Linked DNA regions of Homo sapiens: region 1 is linked to region 2. The links come from fine-mapping of genetic effects on gene expression. A gene starts in region 2. The other region holds a variant in brackets. All regions are shown on one strand. Distances are between the middles of the regions.

Region 1 (12,182 bases), 180 kb after region 2:
GAATGATTTTTATCTTTTAATTTCTATTTTTAGAACTCAGTATTATTTACAGAAAAAAGCTATAAAATAAGAATGACCTCTGAAGTTTGATAAAAGTGAATGACTATTAAAACATTCTCTAGGAGTCAAAGGCTCTTTATCAACCTAAATTTCTACCATGTCAGTAGTACTCCCTGTTGGAATTGGAAATGAAATTAATGGCAAACTAACAAATTCACAACATTCTATACATTTTCACAGTGGTATGTCATTTGTCAAATTATGTTACTCAACACATTCTCCAATAGGAGAATACTAGGAAAGATACTAAGATCCAATAATTAAAATACTCTCTTGAGACTATCATGATTAAATTATAAGATACTGGAGTAAAGCGATGACAAGAAGAACCTAAACAAATACTTTATTTTCTTGCTTCCATTTTCACCCCTGTTCGTATTGTTCCAGCATTCCTTCACCTCCTTTTCCAGTGTTGTTGTTGTCCACCCAGTGCTGTTCATTCATTCAACTTCAGTTCATTCACTCATTACTTACCCTTTATTGAGCCTACTATGTGTCAGTCACTGTTCTGGATGCCGGAGAAATAGCAGTGACCAAGACAAATAAGGAGCCTGCTTTAACCTAGCTTGCATTCCAGTGCAGTGCTATCCAACAGGACGTTCTGACAGTGATGATTGTACTGTGCTGTCCAATCTGTATCCACTGCCACATGTGGCTGCTGAACACTTGGAGTGTGGCCAGTGGCCTTTCTACTGGACAGATAAGTTTTGGTGGATGACAAAGACAACAAGCTACTAAACAAATACATGGAAGAATTTTGGAAAATGATAAGTGGTTCAGAGACTTTAGGAGTGGAATTGTTGGGTCATTGTTGGTCATGCTAACTCCATGCTTAATATTTTGTGGAACTGCCAAACTGTTTTCTAAGTTGCTGTACCATTTTACATCCATGTCAGCAGTGTATGTGAGTTCCAATTTTTCTACATCCTCACTTTGAGATTTTCAGAGGATACATCTATTGCCTAAGACCTCATATAACATAGCTTTTAGACATTTTTATGAAACTGAGTCTAAGTTTTGCTATCAATTGACAAGTTCCTGGTGTTTGAATTCCTCTTTGCTATGGACATGAATGCAAAGGCCAGTCCCATATGAAGTCATTCGTCTTATTCTTTAAGGTTTTCCTTCAGGGATGACCAATTCATCATAGAGTTTGGTGAGCAGGGTAGGGAGGGGACACGTCTTTGAGCAAGCTCAAGAGAAGTAAGTCTAGTTGTTTAGAAAGAAAGCAGATCAAAGTTTTAGAACAACATGTCTGGAAGGATTACCTTCTAAGATGTACTTCTCTAGCTCCAGTATTCTCTAATTTATGTAAGAAACTCACAGGTCAACCAATCAAACCTCACAACTGACCAAGGAATTCCTTATTCTTACCTGCTTTTCAGACTGACTTTTTGTTTTAAGACTTATTTTTTTTTTTAGAGTTTTAAGTTCACAGCAAAATTGAGAGGAAGATAAAGATTTCTTATATGTCTCCTGCCCCAACACATACACAGCCTCCCCCATTATCACATCCCCTACCAGAGTGGAGCGTTTGTTATAATCGACGAACCTACCCATTGACACACCAACATCACCCAGAGTCCATGGTTTTCATGAGGGTTTCCTCGTGGTGCCATACATACTGCGGGCTTGGGCAAATGTATAATGACACGTGTCCACCATCATGGTATCACACAGAGTATGTCCACTGCTCCCAAATCCTCTGCACTCCACCTGTTCCTCCCTCGCTTCCCCCCAGAATGACTTTCTATTTGAACATTTGAGACAATGGGAGGTCACTATAGCTTCAGGAGACAATTCTATCTTTGGAAGTCTGTAATTTTCCGAATGACTCTCTATATATTGAGCTGTAGTTTGTTGCTCCATAGAGTCACCTTAGTTTATGCTTTAGGAGCTAAAAAGGAAAGGTCAACTCTTCTTTTCACATGAGGACCTGTCAGGAAACCCACTAGTGCCCTGGAAAAAATCCACCCAAGGTTCTCCAGGAGGCCATGAGGAGGAAGTCTCCCTGCAGGCTGCTCCATTGCCGGCGCATTTCTCCCTACGTCCTCCTATTAGTGACAGTTGTCATGGTCTCCTTTGCCTTATGGGGAGTCATATTCCCCTGCCCCCCCACCCCAGCTTCAATGCTCCTTCTTATGTCCCTTAATTCCCCACAGCACAGCCAAGACCAGAATAATTCCCTGCCACTGTTTGTAAGGTTTTGGTAATCACAGTGATTTGCAGCCAAGTCTTGTGCTTGCTTTTTGGAGGTCTCAGGCGCATTCGAGCCACACAGGCGTCCAAGGAAAGAAGAGGGCATGCGCAATGATTTTATTCCAAACCCACTTCTCTTTCAACATCTGCCTTGCTCCCATCCCTCTCGCAGCTTCTGATTGAGGCCAGCACAGTGTGATCACTTGATCCAAAGGGAGAGGCAGGTGCTGCAGACTCAGGCCACTGTTTCCTCTTGGGCTCAGGGCGGGTAACAGACCTGGGGGTACTGAGGAGGTGGGAGCCTCCTCCCTGTAGCAGACGGCACAGACTGAGGGAGCGAGTCCTCACCAGCCTACCTGCTCCCCCTCTTCTCAGTCCCATTGTAGTTACTTTTTCATATACGTTTTTTCTTGATTTGGCATGGACAAGGTGAAATCCAGTTAGAAACCTGAGCGTAGTTGCTGTTTCCAAAAGGAAAATAAATAATAAACTGAAAAGATGAAGAAGAGAATTGGGTAAAGGAAATATTTATGAATTTTCTTTTTACACGTGTCTGTTTGCAGGTGAAAGCTACATGCTGGGAAGGAGAAGCATGTTACAGCCATGGCATCTCTCAGCAAGCGTTCGCACTCAGCCTGGCCTTTGGCAGGAGCGGACTTGAAAGATTTTTTCTAGGCTTAAAATCCCATAATTCTGTTTCCACAGAACACAATTCCACAAACTCCTCTGGCAACAGAACTTCAATTTCCAAAGTTTCGCAAGTCCTACAGTCAGGAAATTTCATGGAAATCCTAGCAAAATCAGCTGTAATCCATGGTACACTTCCAAGCATGTCCACAGGGCAAGCTCCCCTTAGGGTGCGGGGATGTGCACCGTGAGGAGAGCCAAGTATTAAAGAACATTTCTCTGCATCGATGAACTTAATCAATCTGAATTCTGGAATGTTTTAAGGGAAAGATGAAAACCTCTAAAAATGAAATTCGGGAAGCTGCATGTGCTTTGCTTCACGGTTGCAGGGACTCCCTGAAGTCAGGAACGGGGAGACAGCTCTCAGGGAATTAGGGTGCAGTAGCAGTGCCCACTGGCTAGTACAGATGCCAAGTCTCCACACCAGGGCATTGCGGAGACCCCACCTGCCTTTCCAGACACTAGCGTGTTTCAGAATGCCTCAGAATTCATCCAGACGCCTTCGTGGTGTACTCCTGGTGTTTGCTTTCAGAAATGACTCCATTTTTCACAAGAAGATAGATAGCTTCGTTTACTTGTATAGTGTTGTCTTATAACGTCCTGACCGTGACATAAGCATAGGATTTGAGTTTGGGTTTGAGCCTTGGCTCTGCCACTTGTTGGCAGTGGGGCCATTGTCAAGTTGCTTAGCTTCTCTGAGCTTCAATTTTCTCATTTGTGGAAAAGGGATATTAGTAACAGTATCATTAAGGGAATAAGTGAAGTGAACGATTTATCATGTCTGAGCATATATAGAAGATGCTATGTAAGGGATTATTCTTGCTTTTCTCCTTCTCAGTGGGCCTATGACAATACAGTAAGACAAGTGGGTAATCAAACAAATTCAATATGTGGGATAACCAGCCATATTTCCATATTCGCCAGTGCTCAGGAACTCATCCTCCAAGTCTTCACTGGTTGTAATTTGTTTTATAAATCACCCAGAAGGAGTTGAGAGGAGAGGTTTTGGTTGTATTTTGGGAGCAGAAGGGCACAGTAGGGAAAGAGCTTCTGTTCCAAGCATTTTAATGCAAACACAAGCACCACACAGCTGCTGGAGACCACAGCCCCTTCTCACACGGCGTTGGGAAGCCTTTGAGCCTGCCTTTGGTCTCTGCTCCTCCCTAAGCACTCCACTGTGCCTTTGGGGCTGTTCCCTTTACTGCTATTGCTCCCTGAGGGTCCCTGCCTTCCACTGGCATCCTAATTGGGCTCTGATTCTCTCAGGAAAAGCCTCAAGATCAACTCATACCTTCTTCATAGAAATTCCTTTTGTCTCTTTCTCTCAGGGATTTGCTCTGTTTGCTAGGCCAGTCCATAGAGTACGTATCCGCAGTTGAGCCCAACAAGTGAGAAAGGGCCCATGTATTAGACGTCTCCCAGGAACCCTCTGTGCTTTCCACAAGTGTCCTCCATGATCTCAAATGATTGGAAAGCAAGGTGGCAAGCAAGTAGAGAAGGAAGGCTCTGAAGATCAGTTACTTTGGGTCCTCTTAAATTTCAACATATAAATTACTTCTAGTGATTTTCTGTGCCCTGGGCATTGGGAGTAGAAGAGAGAGGAAAGGAGTTTGGGGAGTTTTGAGTTGTTTGGCTCGATCAGCTTCTCTGCTCAGTAAGATACAGAGTACTGATGGTATGCAAGGACTCCCTAAAGAGCATCTACAATGAAGGTGCCTATTCTGATCCCGAGGAAAATAATAACAGACTAGCATTTGCATGTGGTTAACAAAATCTTTCAATCTTATAATCTCTCATGGTCCAGACCAGAACCGTCCTATAGAACTTTATGTGATCATTTTACATTTAAATTAAAAATTCTGTTTTGTGGTCACAATAGCCACATTTCACGACCTCAGTGACCATGTATGGTTAGTGGCTACCCTACTGGACGCTGCAGGTCCAGACAGCAACTGTGTAAATGTGGGGTGGGCATTCCTGTGCTCACTTGATCTACTAATCAAGCTCTTGGTGAGGCAGGAGAATGGGGTCTGGAAGCGGGGAACATAAGGCGATGCAAGCTGACTTCCTAGAACTAAATCAAATGGAAACACTTCAGCTATGACAGGAAATATCCTTTCCATTTACATAGGGCATACACTGAGTAAATGACTTGTAACTTTACTTCATCCTCTTCATTTACATAGAGTGTACACCAAGTAACCAGTGGAAACCTCTAGAGGGTATTTAAACCCCAGAAAATTCTGTAATGGGGCTCTTGAGCCCCTGTGCTCGGGCAACTCCCACTCTATGGAGTGTACTTTCATTCAATAAATCTCTGCTTTTGTTGCTTCATTCTTTCCTTGCTTTGTTTGTGCATCTTGCCCAATTCTTTGTTCAAGACGCCAAGAACCCAGACACCCTCCACCGGTAACATTGGTGCAGATAAGAGGTCTTGGGCTCATCAGCCTCCAGGAAGCAGACAGGGAAAGAAAAGGAATGAGGTGGCCAGGGAGCTGCAGGAGTGGCAGGGACTGGCTCAAATTGAAGAGGCCATGCCTGGTTTAAGGGGGCAGCTACTGTTCGGCCGTTTGGAAATGCATGCCCAGAGATGCCAGATCTTTCCTTTTTTTGTTTTCTTTTTTTTTTTT[TG/T]ACATTGATAATGAATTTTTAAAATGTTAACATTATGTAGGCTAATAAAAAAGAACAAAAAACTAAAAACCTAACCACATTGGAGCCCTATAGCCACTGAAGTTCAAATTCTGCAGATGGACCAAACCATTGCACCTAAAACAGCATCTGTGGAATCAGCTTCCATGAAGACAAGGGGATTGTAGGAATATTGGTTGTAGGAGGATAGAACCTGGGTTTGAGTTTCTTCCAGAAATGGGCAGAACAAGTAGACTGTGGTAGGGGTCAAACAAACAAACATACCAAAAATCCTTTTTGTTGTTTATTTTAGGAGTCAAAGTCAAGAGATCTTCAATCTACACACAGGCTGATAGAGAGCAGTGGTAGGGATAGGCCCCCAAGTATGAAGGAGCCCGAATTAGGTACAGGGATTTCCCCAGTGGTCTTACGTTTCAGCGTGTCATCATTTCACGGTTGTGCTATGATTCTTCCACAGGTAAGGAAGAGGAAAATTGTTTCTGTGCTCCAGTGCACAGACAGTTGTTAGTTGCTCCCGAAATTTTCATTGTAAGACCCCAAAATCATAGCATAGGAATACATCTTGAAATAAAAACACAAACATTTCAATAAAAGGAATGGATGAGGGGAAAATGATTTAGTTAGTTACAGAGATGTTGATTATCTTAATGAATAACCATCCTTTTGGTAGGTGATAAAAGTTATTACATATCCAATCCATTGTTCTGACCTACAAAGGCTAGAAACAGTTTTCAACTTATCAGAAGTAAAGATCATTGTACAGAAAGTATCTGTTTTATTAATTCAACACTGTAAACATTTGCCATGTCTTAAAGTTCAAGTCTCTGTAACCTCCTGAGGTCAGGAGTTTGACATCAGCCTGACCAACATGGTGAAACCCTGTCTCTACTAATAATACAAAAATTAGCCAGGCATGGTGGCACTGTAGTCCCAGCTGCTCAGGAGGCTGAGGCAGGAGAATCGCTTGAACCTGGGGGGCGGAGGTTGCAGTTAGTAGAGATAGCACCGTTGCACTCCAGGCTGGGTGACAGAGCAAGACTCTATCTCAAAACAAAAACAAAAACAAAACAAAAAAAATCAAAAATAAAAGTCATAGGATTAAAAATGGAATATGTAGCTTATTGTGTAATACTGTAAGATACCACTGAGGTGTTTACAAATACAAGAATTAAATTCTCGTTCAGAATGCTGATGTTTTCTGGAAAAGGAAATGCTGTTAAACCACAAGCATGCTACCATCTTTCCATCGTGTGGTCCCTTCCCTCTTGGAACCTTGGAGCATGTGCTGTATTTTGTTCAAACTATCACTGTTTGTTGAGATGCCTTTTTTCCCCAGGGTGGTCAGTCTTTGGGAGAACTTGCATTAGTTCGTGGATATTTTAAGTTTTAATGAGCACTCAGCATACAGCAATATTACTCCAGGGGCTGGGGAATTGCTTTCTTTTATTTACATATTACTTATTAGATTTCATTTAGGAAACAGTAGTGTCTGTAAGTAATTATCTCCCACCCCCAATGTTATAAAAAATAATAACCAGGTCCTTCGAAGTTAATGTTAGTAAGACAGTGTCCTGCGGGGAGGAGCAGCTGGATCTCATAGCCTGGTGTTTGTCCCCCAAGGCTCGCGGTCCTGTGGAGGATCTCATGTGCAGTCCTGCCACTGCCTCCACCCTGGGTGGAGTAGGGATGGGAGTGGGGACTATCATTTCCTTTTGAATAAAGCTGATTTAAACAGAGAAGCACGGGTCTTTCACTAATGCCTTAGAGCCCAGCCCAGCCAAGGCTCTGTTATTCAGGAGAGGCTTTCCTCAAAGCTATGGAATGACCAAAGGCAGAGACTTACTGATGGCACCAGGGAGCACAGTAGCCTTTGGACAAATCTTCCCTGTTTATGGTTCACTGGTGAGAGCTTCCTCACTCCTCAGTTCCTGTGATGTTGAAGATACCTGAACCTGCCAAGTTCTAGCCTGAGAGAATGCCTGAGCTCCCTCTCCCTAGTTCCCGTTCTCCGCCTAGCTGGTTACACCAGCTGTGACCACCCACCCCTCTCAGAGTAGGCCATAGTTGGCCATGGAGGCAGAACTCCAGCATGACAAACATGCCAGAATGTCCCTGGACATTTAGTAACATGACAGCCCCTTCCCAGGAGTCATCACTACCTTGTACCATCGATGTGGCTAAGGGGTGAGTCACGTGTGTCTTTCCAGCGTTTGAGATTAAGTATGCTAGGCCCTGTTTGTGGAATACGTAGTTCACGTGTCACCTTTTTATCTGGGCCCTAGGTGATCTTTCCTTTCAACATCAGCCTATTCCCTCTTGCATCCTTCTTCCCACATGACAGACATCCAGTGCCTCCAATAATGACATCAAAAGGGATGAGACTGAAAAACAGATCAGAACTTGCTTGGATAACCTATTTTTCCTAAGCACTAAACAACATTAGACAACATGAAAATCTACCCTAAAACGCCTATAGGCTCACCCATAGTTGCAAGCAATAATGAAAGGTCTAAAAATATTTACACTTAGATATTATGAATATTCAATCTTTGTAACATTTTTTTTTAAATTCTGTTTTCATACTTGCATTTTTATCTACCAAATAAAAATCGATAGAAAATGTTTTAGTTCATGAAAGAGAAACTTGGCCAAAAAAAAAACAAGTTCTCATTAATTTTTGTAAACCAACTGAAGCTATAATTCTCAGCCTCCTGCTGTCACTCTTTACAGCAGGTCCTCAGTCTGAGGTCTGGGGAGACAATGCTGGTTTCCAATCCAGTTCCTGACTCTCAGTGCTCAGGATCTGCTTTGCACATTCCCTTTGAAGAACTTAGACCCACTCTCTGAAAGAGAAAACTACAGAAACACGATAGACGAGACCCCGGGCAAGGCCGAGGTGATGGGAAGGTGCGGGAAAGGCAATGAGTGGGGAGGGGATAGGATACAAAAGGATAGGCCAGGAAGACAGAGGAAGAAAAGCCTGATCAAACAGATAACATTGTTTTATAGGGAGAGGACATTAATCTTGGAGATATACGATAAATCCTTTCATATGTAGTATAAGAACAATGATGACAGCAAAAGCCAGGAAGGCAGACTCAGTTTTTCTTTGAGTGTTTAATTTCCATGGTTCCAGTTTGGTGTATTTGAGCACGATGATAGCTGTGAGCAAAATCTTCTCAATTCACTGATGTCTTGGAATTAAAACAAGCCTCTGCATCATTCTTTCACCCAGTAAGCATTTGTCAAGGTCCACTTGTGAGCATAGTGCACCAGAGAGGTCCTGAGGGATTGAAGAGAGGCAAGTGACGCTCTCCCCGCTCCAAAAGGTTTATGGTCAGGACCTCTGCTGGGATGAACAGTTCCTTGAAGGAGCCCACAGCAGGTGGTTTAGCTTAGTGGCCTTGGTAGGGAGAAGGGCAGCTGTGCAGTTAGGAATGAATTGGGGTTGTGTGTCTTGCAGGACCTGAGCTGCTGGGTGGTTTACAGCTATATGAAATTGTACGTGAAGGGGAAAATATGGCGGTGTGGATTCCTGGCTTCTGCAGGAAATAGCCAGAAAGCAAGTTATTTAGATGACTCAATGAAAACAAGAAATGGAAACTCATGCTTCTTGATTAAATGTGGCTTATTCACAGGGGGATGAGGCAAGGAGAGGAGAGAAAGGGGAGAAAAGCATGCATGTGCACATCAGTGCAAGCACATGAGTCTAAAAGGCAGATGGGATTGCCTGGAAAGGGAAAACCTCAAGGTGAATGCATCAGAATGGCCTGATGATTACAGAAAAGTTCTAACACGATGCCTAATGAATCTACAGTACCTCTCTGGGAAAGACTCAGAGGACTTTGTGAGGTTATGAAATTAATTTGTATTAAGTGTGTATAACACTCTAAAACACATTCCAACCTCAATGATCTCTCTTCTGCTATTAATTTATTCCAGCTCTTACTAAACTATCCATGGGAATCCTCCCATCCCCCGTTTAACAATTCTTTGAATCCTCAGGCTTAGCTAATTCTTATTTGATCTGCAAGGTGGCGGTGTGTAACAGTCAGTAGATGCCACTGTCTAATAGTGAAGGTGTCCACTCAACAAGCTTGTAGGTCAGAAGCTTCAGGTTCCCTTTGATGGATTAGCTCCCTGCTTGGTCGGCTGTGTAAGGTCTCAAGTCTGTGCATAGTATTTACTTAAGTCAGTGATGTAGCCACCTCTCCATTTCAGAGATGACGTTAGTGATGTGATTTGCCCTGGGTCTGTGATCATTGCTTTCACCGGCCTCTGGCTGCAGCACATTGCCTCATGCACTAAGAAGCCACAGTTGCCCTTCAAGGCTGATTCAATGGCATTTCATGGTATCTAACCCTGGCCCACTGCCCTCTGGACTTAGATCTTCAGGTTGTGTCCAAAATCTTAGCTCGGAAGATGGAGACAGGATCAGGTACCACATGGTCTTGAGTGTAGGAGCCAGTCTGAATGTGTCCTGTCACTTGATAGCAGACAGACACTCTTCATCAGCTACTCAGGACTCCAGGCGCCAGGAAGTAAGTTGAGGTCAGGGAGTTTGTTTTATCTACTGATTTGGAAAAATATTTAGCCTCCCTGGAACAGAGATGTACATTCCGTGTGCCTGAAGCCATGAAATTTGGCAAGTCTCATATCAGATACCTAAAACTGTTATGCAACTCAGTCTAATTTACATTGTAAGGCTGCCAGAGGGAACTAGATTTCTCCCTTGGTCTAAACGTCCCCTCTGACAATTCTAAGGGCCCAACAATTGATATCAATCAATCAACAATAATAATAATAATAATAGTAATAATGATATACCTTGCCCATATTTGACCTACAGTTCAAGGCCCATAGCTTTGGATAATCAGAAGTTAGAATTTGGCTCAGAGGGACATGTGAGTGACTTATGCAATACTTTGGCCATTTTACAAATGAAGACAAAGGTGTCTGACAGTGTGAATTAGAATGAAAACATCTCCCAAGCTAGCGTTTCTTCCACAATGGGCTCTTGCTGCAGAAAAGAAAAGCTATCTTTCTTGTCATTTTTCACCAAAGAGGCCATTGCATGTCTGATAATTTTTCTTCAAAATTGTTTCTTTTTATATTTAAATGCTTATTTTTTCCTAGCCGCTAGACCACCAGGGAAAAATTGTTTTCAAAAACCTTAATTCTGCTACTTAATTTTGCATGGTATATGTGAATCTGCAAAGGCAAGCACTTCAAACTGTGCTGTCTGGGGAAATAACACTTGCAATGGAAAGGCAAACTCAAAATCAGTGTGTCTAGCACTTACCTTTCAAATGATTAATGGTAATTGTGGTGTGTGTATGTATATGGGTGCAGAACTGTCAAAGAGCATCCATTTTAGATTAAACAGCTCTGGGTTCAACTTGAGGCTCAGCAAATTCTTCAGTTTTCTTATCTGGATTTTCTGTTCAACACACCAAAGTGTATTCTGTGAAATGTTAGTTTTGCAGAATAGGAAAAAAAGATCACAAGAAAAAAGGAAATCACAGTTAAATAAAAGAAGTTCAACTGGCTTTTTAACCATAGGGTCGCTCAGAGGCTTTAAGATATTAAAATACAATGTGACTCTCAAAGAAGGAACAACATATAAATTAAAATGCAATGAATATCCAAGAGTTTCTCAAACTTACCTGATTATGGACATTTTTTTTTTCATAGAGCCACTCATGAAACTGATGAATTTAGGGAAATCCTACATTCCTCCGGACTTGGGTTGCAAGTAATGAGACCAAACACTAGCTTAGGCAAAAAGAGAAAACCATTTGCTCCGGTCACCAAATCAAAGTCAGGACAAGGGTAGAGATAGCCTCCTGGACAACTGGAGCAGCTGATAATAATTAATATTTATTGTGAGACAACCATGTGCCAGGCACTGTTCAGCATGCTTCTCATGCATTAATTCATTCAATCCTCACAACAGTTCCATGAGCTAAGTACTATCATTATCTTTTACAGAAGAGGAAACTCAGGTTCAAAGAGGTTCAGTTTCCCAAGGTTACCTAGGCAGTCTGACTCTGAGCCCACACTTGGAACCACTGACCTTATGCTTCTCCAGGGACTTAAATGCTGTCAAAGTTTATTTTTCCTGCATGACTCTTGCGTCCTTGGGTCTATTTAATTCTCTTCAACCAGCTTTCCCCATGAGACAGAGACCTGGCTCCCGCCTGTCAGCCTGCCCCCTACCTCCTTCCCGGGAAAGGGCTCCTCTTCCAATTCCTATTAAAAACATTCTGGGCTGGGTGCGGTGGCTGATGCCTATAATCCCAGCAGTTTGGGAGGCCAAAGCAGGTGGATCTTTTGAGGTCAGGAGTTAGAGACCAGCTTCTACTAAAAATACAAAAACAAAAACAAAAACAAAAAATTAGCTGGGCATGGTGGTGCGTGCCTGTAGTCTTAGCTACTCAGGAGGCTGAGGTGGGAGAATTGCTTGATCCTGGAGGCAGAGGTTGCAGTGAGCTGAGATCGCACCACTGTGCTCCTCCAGCCTGGGTGACGGACCGAGACTCCATCTCAAAAAACAACAGAACATTCTGGAGAAGATCTATGATTAG
Region 2 (11,384 bases):
ACAAAACAGGAAAAAAAAAATTCCATAGTTTATGGGACTTAGAACACAAGACTGAGAAACGCTTACCACAAAATTGTCTAATATGCATGAACACAAATGAAAAATGTGGTAACTAATCTACAAGTTACTAGTAGCCATACTTGACAAATTCATTATTACAGGTCTTTACATCTTAAAGAATCTGATCTTTAGTGTGCCATTATGAATCTCAAATATTAACAAGCTAAAAAGTCTAAATCTAAAATAAATTTAATCAAATATCTTACAGAACTGTAATCAAGAAAACTAAGAGCTGGAATTACTTTTATTGTATTTTATTTTGAGACGGAGTCTGTCTCTGTTGCCCAGCCAGAGTGTAATCGCGCGATCTTGGCTCACTGCAACCTCCACCTCCCCGGTTCAAGCGATTCTCCTGCCTCAGCCTCCAGAGTAGCTGGGATTACAGGTGCCCGCCACCATGCCCAGCTAACTTTTGTATTTTTAGTAGTAGAGACCGGGTTTCGCCATGTTGGTCAGGCTGATCTCATACCCCTGACCTCAGGTGATACACCCGCCTTAGCCTCCCAATGTGCTGGGATTACAGGCGTGAGCCACCACGCCTGGCCTCTGGAATTACATTTAGGTGTAGGATGTTTACTTTATCTGTATTCAATGATAGGTGAAGCAATTCAATCACATCATTCACACATAAATACAGTCATCCCTCCATATAAGCAGGGGATTGGTTCCAGGACCGCTACGTATACAAAAATCCATACATAAAGTCCCACAGTAGGCCCTGTGGAACCTGCGAATACAAAAAGTTGGCCCTCCATGAATACTCTATTTTCTATCCAAATTTGATTGGAAAAAAAAAAAAACTGCATATGTTTTCAGGCGTGAACTGTACTTAAGATTTTCCTGAGTTTGAGATCTTCAAATTTGAAAAAATATTAGTAAAGTAGACCTTGGTCTTCCATCTCTAAAAGTTCCATTATAATTATTTCCAGCCAGGAAGAAAAATTAGCATCACCACCACACTTTTTGCATGTGCTTTTGTTATTAATGTTATTCATTCATCTTCCTTGCCAAAATTCCCAGTATTATTGGGCCTGATTTCTTGCCATTAAATGCAAACACTTTTCATGTACTATGTTTATATACAAGGCCTTATGTACAAGAGTGCCTAAGTTTTAGCAATATAAGTAATGTCAAAAGACTAGTCTTTTCTCATCAGATGTACACTTAATCAATTTAGTAACCTGGATTGTTGTTACAGTTTAAACTTTTCAGTTTCAAGGCCAAAAAAAAAATTATTAGAAACAGAAATTCTGTCACAGTTCCCTATACTGGGATAAAACAATCACATAAATATTTTATCAAAAAATTATTAATTATCTTTAAATCAGCATTTCCTTTCTTCATTTCTATCTGTAGGTCTGCATTTAGGAAAAACATTTCAGAAGTGCCACAAAGAACCCACCACTTTACAGTAAATAAAGTTAGTAATTCAACAAATCTTATCACTCAGCCCATATGAGGAAAACAGAAAAAACCTGAGTAAAACAAGTAAAATTTTAATGGTTAAACACAATCTTTTCTAGACGGAATACTAGTAATTGCCAGCAGATTTATGGCACAGATGCTGATTAGCTATCTCTTCTGAGAAAAAGATGGTTTTTTCCTCTCCTTGAAAATTATTAGCCCTACTAAAATCTCAGAATTCACTATATAATTAGTCCACGTAACCAAAAACCACTTGTACCCCAAAAAGCTGTTGAATTTTTTAAAAGTCCTAAAAAGTTTTATCAAAGTAGCTGAAACTTTTTTTGTCTAATTATCAAAAATTATAAGCAAACGATTTGCTAATACTTGAAATGCCCCCAAGATTTTGCTGTAATAATTTGTCATCTCAGTGCTTTTTCTGGAATGCAGGCCTCATGAAAAAACACTTGTAAAATGCCACATGGCATTCAACAATTAGTAAAATCTAGTTTCACCAATATGATGCACATTTATACATTTTGACATCTCTTAATGGAGTCTTAAGCAGTGTCTTAACTGGCAGCATTTTTTTTTAGTGCTACATACAATAATGGTACCTTTTACAACAAATGGCATCTTAGGATGCCATGGAAAACAGTAACTTGGTTTCTCAAAACCACAAGTTTCAGCCCAAAAAGATAGTTTGCCCAGCATCTCATTTTACAGATGATGAACATGAAAACCCAACTATATGATGTTCCCAACGTCATAAAATCAAGAGCAAAAGAGGCCAGGTGTGGTGGCTCATGCCGGTAATCCTAGCACTCTGGGAGGCCGAGGCAGGACTCTGCCCAGGAGTTCGAGATCAGCCTGGGCAACATAGGTCCTTTCTCTCTAAGAAAAATTATTTATTCAAAAAAAAAAAATCAAGAGCAAAAGAGACTGAACTCGGGTCTTCTGGCTCCCAATGATGCCCTTTCCATTAAACACCGTGCCTCCTGAAGTAAATCAAATGAAAAAAACTGCCTGGGTTTAACCAACATCTAACATACATAAAAAGCATATCACGCAGGAGCCGTGTGCGCTTATGGCCTGAATCAAAAGTCTCAGATTGACTCAAAAGTAACAATTTAACAATCCACTGTTGTGTTTGTCTTTGGTAAGATGTATAATGAACTACAGACTTCAGAAATGAGAGCTTCCCTTAAAGCAGGGATTTCATCCGGTGCATTACAATGACTCAGTACAATCTCACTTGCATCTTCTTCCCTCCCCACCATTCCCCGCAGGGGAAAGACCCCCGCAAGGAGAATGACAGGCCCACCTGGGGCCTAAACTCCATAGCTCAAACAAGGCTGGGCACTCATTTATCAGCACTAGAAACTTCGCACATCTTTTCCAGTCTAAGAACTACACAATTTACAGGTGGTTGGTATGTGAATCTCTCTCCTTGCAGGAAAAACTAAAGGAACCCGATGAACACAGTGACACCCGCAGTTTGTCAGCAGGACTCGCTAGCGATGGAGCGTCTGGGGAAGAAGCCCCACGGCGGAGGAAAAGGTACCCGAGACAACGACACGTTATCTGGGCTCCGGGGGTTGAAGCACCAGGCGACGACGCAGAGAGGCGTCGCACGAGAAGCCAGTGGACCTGCGACACGGCACTCCCCGTGAGGTCCCTTCAGCCACCCTCTCCATCCCCCAAGTGGGAAGAAGATGGGAGGTGGGGGCTGGACGCGCGGAGGCGGGGACTGGGGGGCCTGCCGGGCGGCGGTGGCGGCTCCGCTCGGCGGCCGCAGGAGGCCATTTTAGTTAAGGGGCCGCTGAAGGGCCCTGAGGCCTCCACGTCCCTACACCTCCGCCGTCTCTACCTCCCCCCTACTGGGGGCCGCTCCCCGCCGCGGGCCGGGCCGGGCCGGGCAAGGCGGGGCGGGGCGGGGCGGGGCGGGAGAGGCCGCCGGGCTGGGCCGGGCCAGGCCTGCAGCGGGCCGGGGCTCTGGGATGGCTGGGGACGGGCGCGGGGGCGTCGCATCGACAGGATCCGGACCGAGGGGAGAGCAAGGGGCGAACAGAGAGAAGGCAGGATGCCGTTACCTATATTGGGCCGCAGCCGCCGCCGCCGCCGCCCCGCTGTGGGTGAATCCAAAGTAGTTGCCGGTCGCCATTTTGGCATCTTCCCCCAGCCGGCTGGGCACTGCGGCGGGCACGAAGAGTCGGGTCCCATGGCGGGACAAGAGACACAGAGGAGCCGAGACGCCGAGGGAGGGCAGGGAGAGAAAGAGAGAGGCGCCGTGAGAGCAGCCCTGGCGGGGCCCAGGCCGCGGCCGCGCCGCCTCCCCCTCCCGCCTCGCACTCCCTCACTCACTCGCACGCCCGGGTGGCGGCCGCCGCCTCCTCCCCGGAGCCTGCCCCAACCCCCGCGGCTCCCCGCTGCCCGGGGCCAGGGAGGGGGCCGGGCAGAGGCCTCGCGGGCCACATTAGACTCACCATAGGTGAAAGAAACTACAGGGCATATGGGAATCATGGGCTCGGGCTGCTGCTGCTGAACTCTGAACTCTCACCCGCTGCCTCCCTCCTCTGCCCCGCTCCTCCTCAGCGGAGAACAGACCGCCGCCTCCGACCGCACTGCGCAGGCGCGCCTGTGCTCGGCATCCTGGGAGCTGTAGTCCCCGCCGTCTTCGCGGCTCCCCCGGGCGCGTGCCGGGGCCTCGGCGGTGCGGGCGCGGGGAAGCCCGCGGGGGAAGAGGGGCCTGGCCTTCTCCGAAGTGGTGGTGACGCCGCGCGGCCGCGGGGCGACGGGGGCGTGTGCCAGAAGCGCCTCGCCTGTCCTCTGGGGAGTCGGGGAGCGTGACCAGAGAGAGTGACGTCTGTTCGCCTTTTTCTTTGCTTTCCACTGGCTTCCTTAACTTTTGCATGTGCACTTATTCCCTGCCTCCCTGTCTTCCTCGCTCATTAATTTTTCATTGGAATTCGAGCTGGGCAATTTAGGATTTTTCCTTATTTCCTGCTTTCCCGCAGCTTTTCCCCAACCTCTGAAGTGCGGAGGGAGGGAGAAGGAGAGGAGAGAAATAGAAAAAGGATGGAGAGTGCTTTTCTGTTGGACTAAAAGCACACCCTAAACATCCCTCCCGGACATACCTCTTGCTATACCCTTTCCTCGACCTGCACCCACTCCCTGAGCCATCCGGCGTATATCGGTCACCCAGCAGGGTGTCAGGCAGTGTTGTAGGTGCTGGAGATACGGCAGAGAACAAAACAAAGTCCCTGTTCCCGTGGAGTTTACGTTCTAGGAGCGGGTATATGTCAGCCAACAGCCGGTAGCCAAAACACAGAAATTCTGTCTGATGGTGACTGGAGCTTCAAGCATAAATAAAGCAGAGTAAGGAAAATAAGGGTAAGGGAGGTGCTATTTCATGTAGAGTGTGGTTAGGGAGACCACTTGAAGGAAGGAAGGACAGGCCTGGGAGATGCCTGCAGGAAGAGCAGCAAGTGGAAGGGTCCAGATGAAGGAATGAATGTTCAAGAGCAAGAAGATCAGTCTGGCTGGAGTCAAGTGAGAGGGAGACCAGATCACGTGCCAGATCTTTAGTGGTAAGGACAGAACAGTACTTGCCCCCATGTAAGCATTTCCTCTTTCCCTCTGTTTCCTCGCTTTCTTCCCTTTAGTTTCTCAGTTCGTTTTCAACCATTCTCTTTCCTCTTCCAGTCCCTCTTCTGATCGTCTAGTTTCTCTGGCCTTATGTTTCGTGTCTTCCATCAAGTACATATGTACTGCCTGCATTTCACCTCTTCCTTACCTTCTCCATGCCCATCCCCCAGACTCCCTGCTCCTCATCTCTCCTCATTGTTGGATATGAACATTAAAAGGAAATGCTGGCCGGGCGCGGTGGCTCACGCCTGTAATCCCAACACTTTGGGCGGCCGAGGCGGGTGGATCACGAGGTGAGGTCAGTGGCCAACATGGTGAAACCCCGTCTCAAAAAAAAAGAAAAAAAAAAAAAGCCGGGCGTGGTGGCGGGCGCCTGTAGTCCCAGCCACTCAGAAGGCTGAGGCAGGAGAATCGCTTGAACCCTGGAAGCAGAGGTTGCAGTGAGCCGAGATCGCGCCCCTGGACTCCAGCCTGAGCGACAGAGCGAGACTCCGTCTTAAAAAAAAAAAAAAAAAGGAAAGGAAAAAAAAGAAATGCAAAGGGTGAATCAGAACCCACCCATGAAATTCAGGGCTTTGTCCTACTTTCTTGTGCCAGAGCAGAAACAATGCCTCAATTCTTTTTTGTGCCAACCTTGCTCCCCACGCCTCCTACAAAAGTACAGGCTCTCAGAACCTGTCTGATTTGTCCTGTTACTCATTTCAGAAAGAGAAAATGTAGAACCTTGGAGAAAAGTTAAGTGTCATTATTTTTGAGAATACTGATGTTTTCCCAGGCAAAAGTTATTTGTGCCCCAAGGATGTTGCTAGGAAGAAATACCTCCTACACATAGGACATTAGAACTGTATTTTAAAGGTATTTTGCCTTGAACTTCATTGAGCAGTCAAGCTTCAAGACACTGACTGTAACTGCTTTGATGAACCGGCTCTATTAGTTACTAGGCTATTTGAATAAAACTGGAGGAGAAAAGACAGGTGTTGATTACTTGCCTAAAAAGAGTCTGTGTAGGCCAGTTTTATGCTTGTTTGCTTGGCAGGCCTTTGGAGGCCGGCGTGCTACTGGCACACCCCAATGAGCAAGCACATAACTAGAAAGAGGAAGACGGGGCCTCTCCCCTGGTTCTTAGGGGTCAAAGTAGGTGTGGCAGTAGTGAAAATTATTTACAACAGCACTCTCAAAGATGCAGCCTGTAGGAACAACCTTTCAGTATCGCACCTACTTGCCCTTGACTTGGGCTCCTTTAAGGAAGGAGTTTTGGAGGGTCTTGAATATTTTTCCTGGGCATCTAGTAGTGGAGTAACCTGAACATGTTATTTAACCTATCTGAACCCATACGGCAAGAATAACAATAACATCTTCCTGATGGGACTCTGGTGGGGTTTAAATGAGGCAGCATTTATGTAAGACATCTAGTTTTTTTTGTTTTGAGATAGGGTTTCACTCTGTCGCCCAGGCTAAGTGCAGTGTTGTGATCTCAGCTCAATGCAGCCCCAACCTCCTGGGCTCAAGCAATCCTCCCACCTCAGCCTCCTGAGTAGCTGGGACTACAGGCACATGCCACCATGCCCAGCTAATTTTTGTATTTTTTGTAGAGATGGAGTTTTGCCACATTGCCCAGGCTGGTCTCCAATTCCTGAGCTCAGGCGATCTGCTCATTTCGGCCTCCCAAAGTGCTGGGATTACTGGTGAGAGTGAGCCACCATGCCTGGCCTAACGCCTAGCTTTTTCATGTAAAAAGACTAGGCTAGATGATTGTCAGTTCTTTATTTTTATTTATTTATTTGAGACAAAGTCTTGCTTTGTCACCCACGCTGGAGTGCAATGGCGCGATCTCAGCTCACTACAAACTCCGCCTCTCAAGATCAAGCAATTCTCCTGCCTCAGTCTCCCAAGTAGCTGGGACTACAGGCATGCGCCACCACACCCAGCTAATTTTTGTATGTTTAGTAGAGAAGGGTTTCACCATGTTGGCCAGGCTGTTCTCAAAGTCCTGACCTCAAGTGATCCACCCACTTGGCCTCCCAAAGTGCTGGGATTACAGGCGTGTGCCACTGTGCCAGGCCGATTGTCAGTCTTTTAAAATCAACCTTCTAATAAGTGAATGCATTGTGCAAATCACACCTACAAGTCAAAAGTAGGTGGCTCTGCCCTGGAAGAGTTTATGTTCTAGAGTACCCGGTCTAGGCAACATGGCTGTACGTAGTCTTCTGGGTCAACAATTAAAGATGAAATACTTGACCAGAAGCAACCAATTATAATAGGGATTGTCATCCTTCATGTCCAGAACTGGTTTGGTATGCAAATCTGATCAAATCCTCTGTGCTTTCATCTCTCAGGATAAAGCAAATTCTTCCATGTGGCCCACGAGACTCTGTGGCCTGGCCCACCTGCCTTTTCAGCATCTTCCTCCTTATTCACTCTATCCCAGCTATCTTGGCCTCCTGTTCACCATGCTCCCTCCCACCAGGGGGCTTTGCATGTTCTCCCTGCCTAGAATGTTCTCCCTTCTTCCCTTTACCTGGTTTACCCTCATGCTTGGGGATCGCAACTCATTCAACCCCTCGTGACCTTGATGGGTCAAACCCTTGCTATGCTCTCAGAGCACCAGACATCTCTTCTTAGTTGCCCTTGTCACAGTTGCAATCTTATACTTATTGTGTGATTATATGATTAATATATATTTCTCTCTCGCATCAAACTATAAGCTTCACGAGGGCAGGTTGCCAGTATTGGGTGCCTGTTGGTAGGCACCCAATAAGTACTTATGGAATGAATGAACCACGCTGTGCACAGTTTAATCTTTCTTTCATGATTCAGAAGGTAGTTCAAGAACCTGTAGTGCCTCAGGGTCATAATTATGAACCTCAATTAGGATCTGAAGGTAAAAGAGGAAATGTCATTGGCAGTCAATTAGCCACAAGGTAGAGCTAGCCTGACAAAGCCAGCCCCTAAACTCACCAAAAATAAATCTATAATAGTTGTCTTCCGTCACACCTTTGAGTCAAGGTGTGGTATCCTGAAAGACCTTGATAAAATACGGATAAATTAGCCAGAAAGGACATCATACTAGCTACTCTATACCAAGAGGAGTATAGTGAGGTGAATAAGAGCAAGGACTCTAAAGCTGGACACACCTGGCTTCAAATCCCAGCTCTGTCACTTTCTGCTCTGTGACCTCAGCCACAATCTCTCTGCTTCATTTTTCTTCCTCCTCTGTAAATAGAGAGGTAAAAGTAGTATCTTCATCAGGGGATTGTTGGTAGGGGTTAAAGACTTCCTAGATGTAAAGCTCTTAGATCAGTGCCTGGCTCACTGTAAGCACATTTTCATCATCTCATAATAAATCCTGTACCCATTAGCAGTCACTCCCCATTTCTACCTCCTTCCAATGCCTAACAACCACAAAATTACTTTGTGTCTCTATGGATTTGTCTATCCTGGACATATAAATGGAATCATACAATAATGTGGCCTTTTGTGTCTGGCTTCTTTCACTTAGCATAATGTTTTCAAATTTCATCGTCCATTGTTTGGATATACCACATTTTATTTATTCATTCATAAGTTGATGGATGTTTGGGATGCTTCCATTATTGGGCTATTATGAATAACATCACTATGAACACTGATATGCAAGTTTTTGTGTGGACAGATGTTTTCAATTCTCCTGAGTATATCCCTAGGAGTGGAATTGCTGGTATACCTTTTTTCCCCCAAACTCTCTGAATAGCTGAAATTCTTTTCCTCTCTACAACCACTACTCTAGTTCATCTCTTGCCCAAGCCGACTTCAACAGCCCACTAATTGGTCTCTCTTCCCAGTAATCTAATCCTCTCAAATCTGTCCTCTACACAATGATCAAGGATCTAAGATTAAAAAAATAAATAAATAGGGCTGGGCGTGGTGGCTCATGCCTGTAATCCCCGCGCTCTGGGAGGCTGAGGAGGGTGGATCACCTGAGGTCAGGAGTTCAAGACCAGCCTGGCCAACATGGTGAAACCTCATCTCTACTAAAAATACTAAAATTAGCCTGGCATGGTGGCGCACACCTGTAATCCCAGCTACTCGGGAGGTTGAGGCAGGAGAATTGCTCCAACCCAGGAGGCAGAGGTTGCAGTGAGCCAAGATCGCGCCACTGCACTCCAGCCTGGGCAACAGAGTGAGACTCTGTAACAACAACAACAAAAAAAGTAGTAGTAATAACAGTGTACATTATAATGCATTGTCTCATTTATTCTTTACAAAAACCTACAAGGTAGGTACTATCATGATTATCCCATTTAGAGATAGTAAAAGTGAGTTCATAAGGGTGATAAGTGGCAAACGCAGGATTTAAACTATACCTACCTGTTTCCAGAATGCCTGACCTCTGCGACATACTGCTTCCCTGAAACACATCTGAACATGTCATTACCCTGCTAAAAATCTCGTAAAGATTCACACTTGCCTAAAGTAAGAACACGTCCTATTACTGGTGGGTCACTAGAGTCACCTTTGTGTTTCCAGTTTTAGTGCACATGGCTATTTTTCATTTATGAACTCCTAGAGCACTTACATTATTGGCTCTTTAATTATTTCATTCCAGGGCATCCTATAGTTCCCATTTTGTAACACTCATCAGACTGGTCATTTCTTACTCAATATCTCTCTTCCCCCAGGAAAGAACATGAACTCCACAGGGTCAGGAACCATGTCTGTTTTATCTGCCAATGAATTTCCAATGCCTAGAGCCATTCCGGCCGAGCATGGTGGCTCATGCCTGTAATCCCAGCACTTTGGGAAGCCGAGACGGGCAGATCACTTGAGCTCAGGAGTTCGAGACCAGCCTGGGCAACATAGTGAAACCCTGTCTCTACAGAAAATACAAAAACTAGCTGGTCATGGTGGCATGCACCTGTAGTCCCAGCTACAGGAGGCTGAGGTAAGAGGATCCCTTGAGTCTGGGAGGTGGAGGTTGGAGTGAGCCGAGATCATGCCACTACACTCCAGCCTGAGTGACAGCGTGAGATGCTGTCTCAAAAAATAAAATATTAAAAAGAGAGAACCATTCCAAGAACACAGTATGCACTTAATAAATATTTTGGGGATGAATGAAATTAGTCTTGTGTCCATTTTTTGAGGGTAATGGTTTTATGATATAGGTCTTTAATATCTTTCTTCCCCCTCCCCCAAGTACCATCTGACATGGTACCAGCCACAAATGCAGATGCCAACCTATTTTAGTCCTTGCAGCTCCCTTGACATTCTAGAAAATGCTATTTGCTACCAAGCTTGAACCCCCAACACCAATGTTATAAGGGTTTCTTTGTGTCAGTAACATATTCATAGGAACCTGAAGAACCTACAGGACTCAAGGCAGCCATAGGAGTCGCTGTTTAGCAGCTTGGAGAAGAGTCTCAGCCACACTGTGACCTGATTTAGAGCTTGATATGATTATCAATGGGAGATGCTGAAGGACATATTGGTTTAAAGCCCACACTCTAGATCAACACTGTCCAATAGAACTTTCTTCAAAGATAGAAATGTTCTCTCTCTGCACTGTGCAATATGGTAACCACTGGCCACATGTGGCTATTGAACACTTGAAATGGGGCTAGTATGACAGCAACTACATTTTAATTTAATTTAATTTTAAAAACCCTAGTTTAAAAACCGCTAGTACATGGCTAGCGGCTACTATATTGGATAGTATAGTACCAGAGTCAGATGACCTATGTTCAAATCCTGGTTTTACTACTTACTGACAATATGACTTTGGCGAATTTACTTAACCTTCTCATGCCCTGGTCTCATCTACAAAACAGAAAAAATAATAATAGTACTAACCTCATAATTTGACATGAGGATTAAAAAACTAAATACATATTTTGTACATGAGCCCATCAGGCTAGCACTAAGGTGGCTGGGGAAAAAGGCTGACTGTTGCTAGGCGTGTCAGCTGTAATCCCAATGCTTTGGGAGGCCGAGGAGGGTGGATCGCTTGAGCCCAGGGGTTCAAGACCAGCCTGGGCAACAGAGTGAGACCCTGTCTCTATTTAAAATAAAATTGTTTTTAAAAGGCTGACTGCGGCCAGGCATGGTGGCTCATGCCTGTATTCCTAGCACTTTGCGAGGCCAAGGTGGGCAGATCACTTGAGGCCAGGAGTTGGAGACCAACCTGACCAATATGGTGAAACCCCATCTCTACCAAAAATACTAAAAATTTGCCAGGCATGGAGGCACATGCCTGTAATCCCAGCTACTTGGGAGGCTGAGGCACGAGAATTGCTTGA

What was found. PIP is the estimated chance that this variant, and not a neighbour inherited with it, causes the effect.
Region 1: its variant is fine-mapped to the expression of ZFR in monocytes after Pam3CSK4 (Quach 2016, PIP 0.95).

Annotation. Positions count from the first base shown.
Region 1 is chr5:32,618,468-32,630,649 of GRCh38, forward strand. No RefSeq gene overlaps it. Among named protein-coding and RNA genes, the nearest start is that of LINC02061, 27 kb to the right of the region's middle. The variant TG/T (reference allele first, on the strand shown) is at 5,577.
Region 2 is chr5:32,440,672-32,452,055 of GRCh38, forward strand. ZFR (zinc finger RNA binding protein) reads right to left here and starts at 4,069. Exons shown (of 20, transcript NM_016107.5): 1 at 3,951-4,069; 2 at 3,558-3,657. The coding sequence starts at 3,987. RefSeq lists silencers at 3,112-3,451, 3,682-4,371 and an enhancer at 3,163-3,720.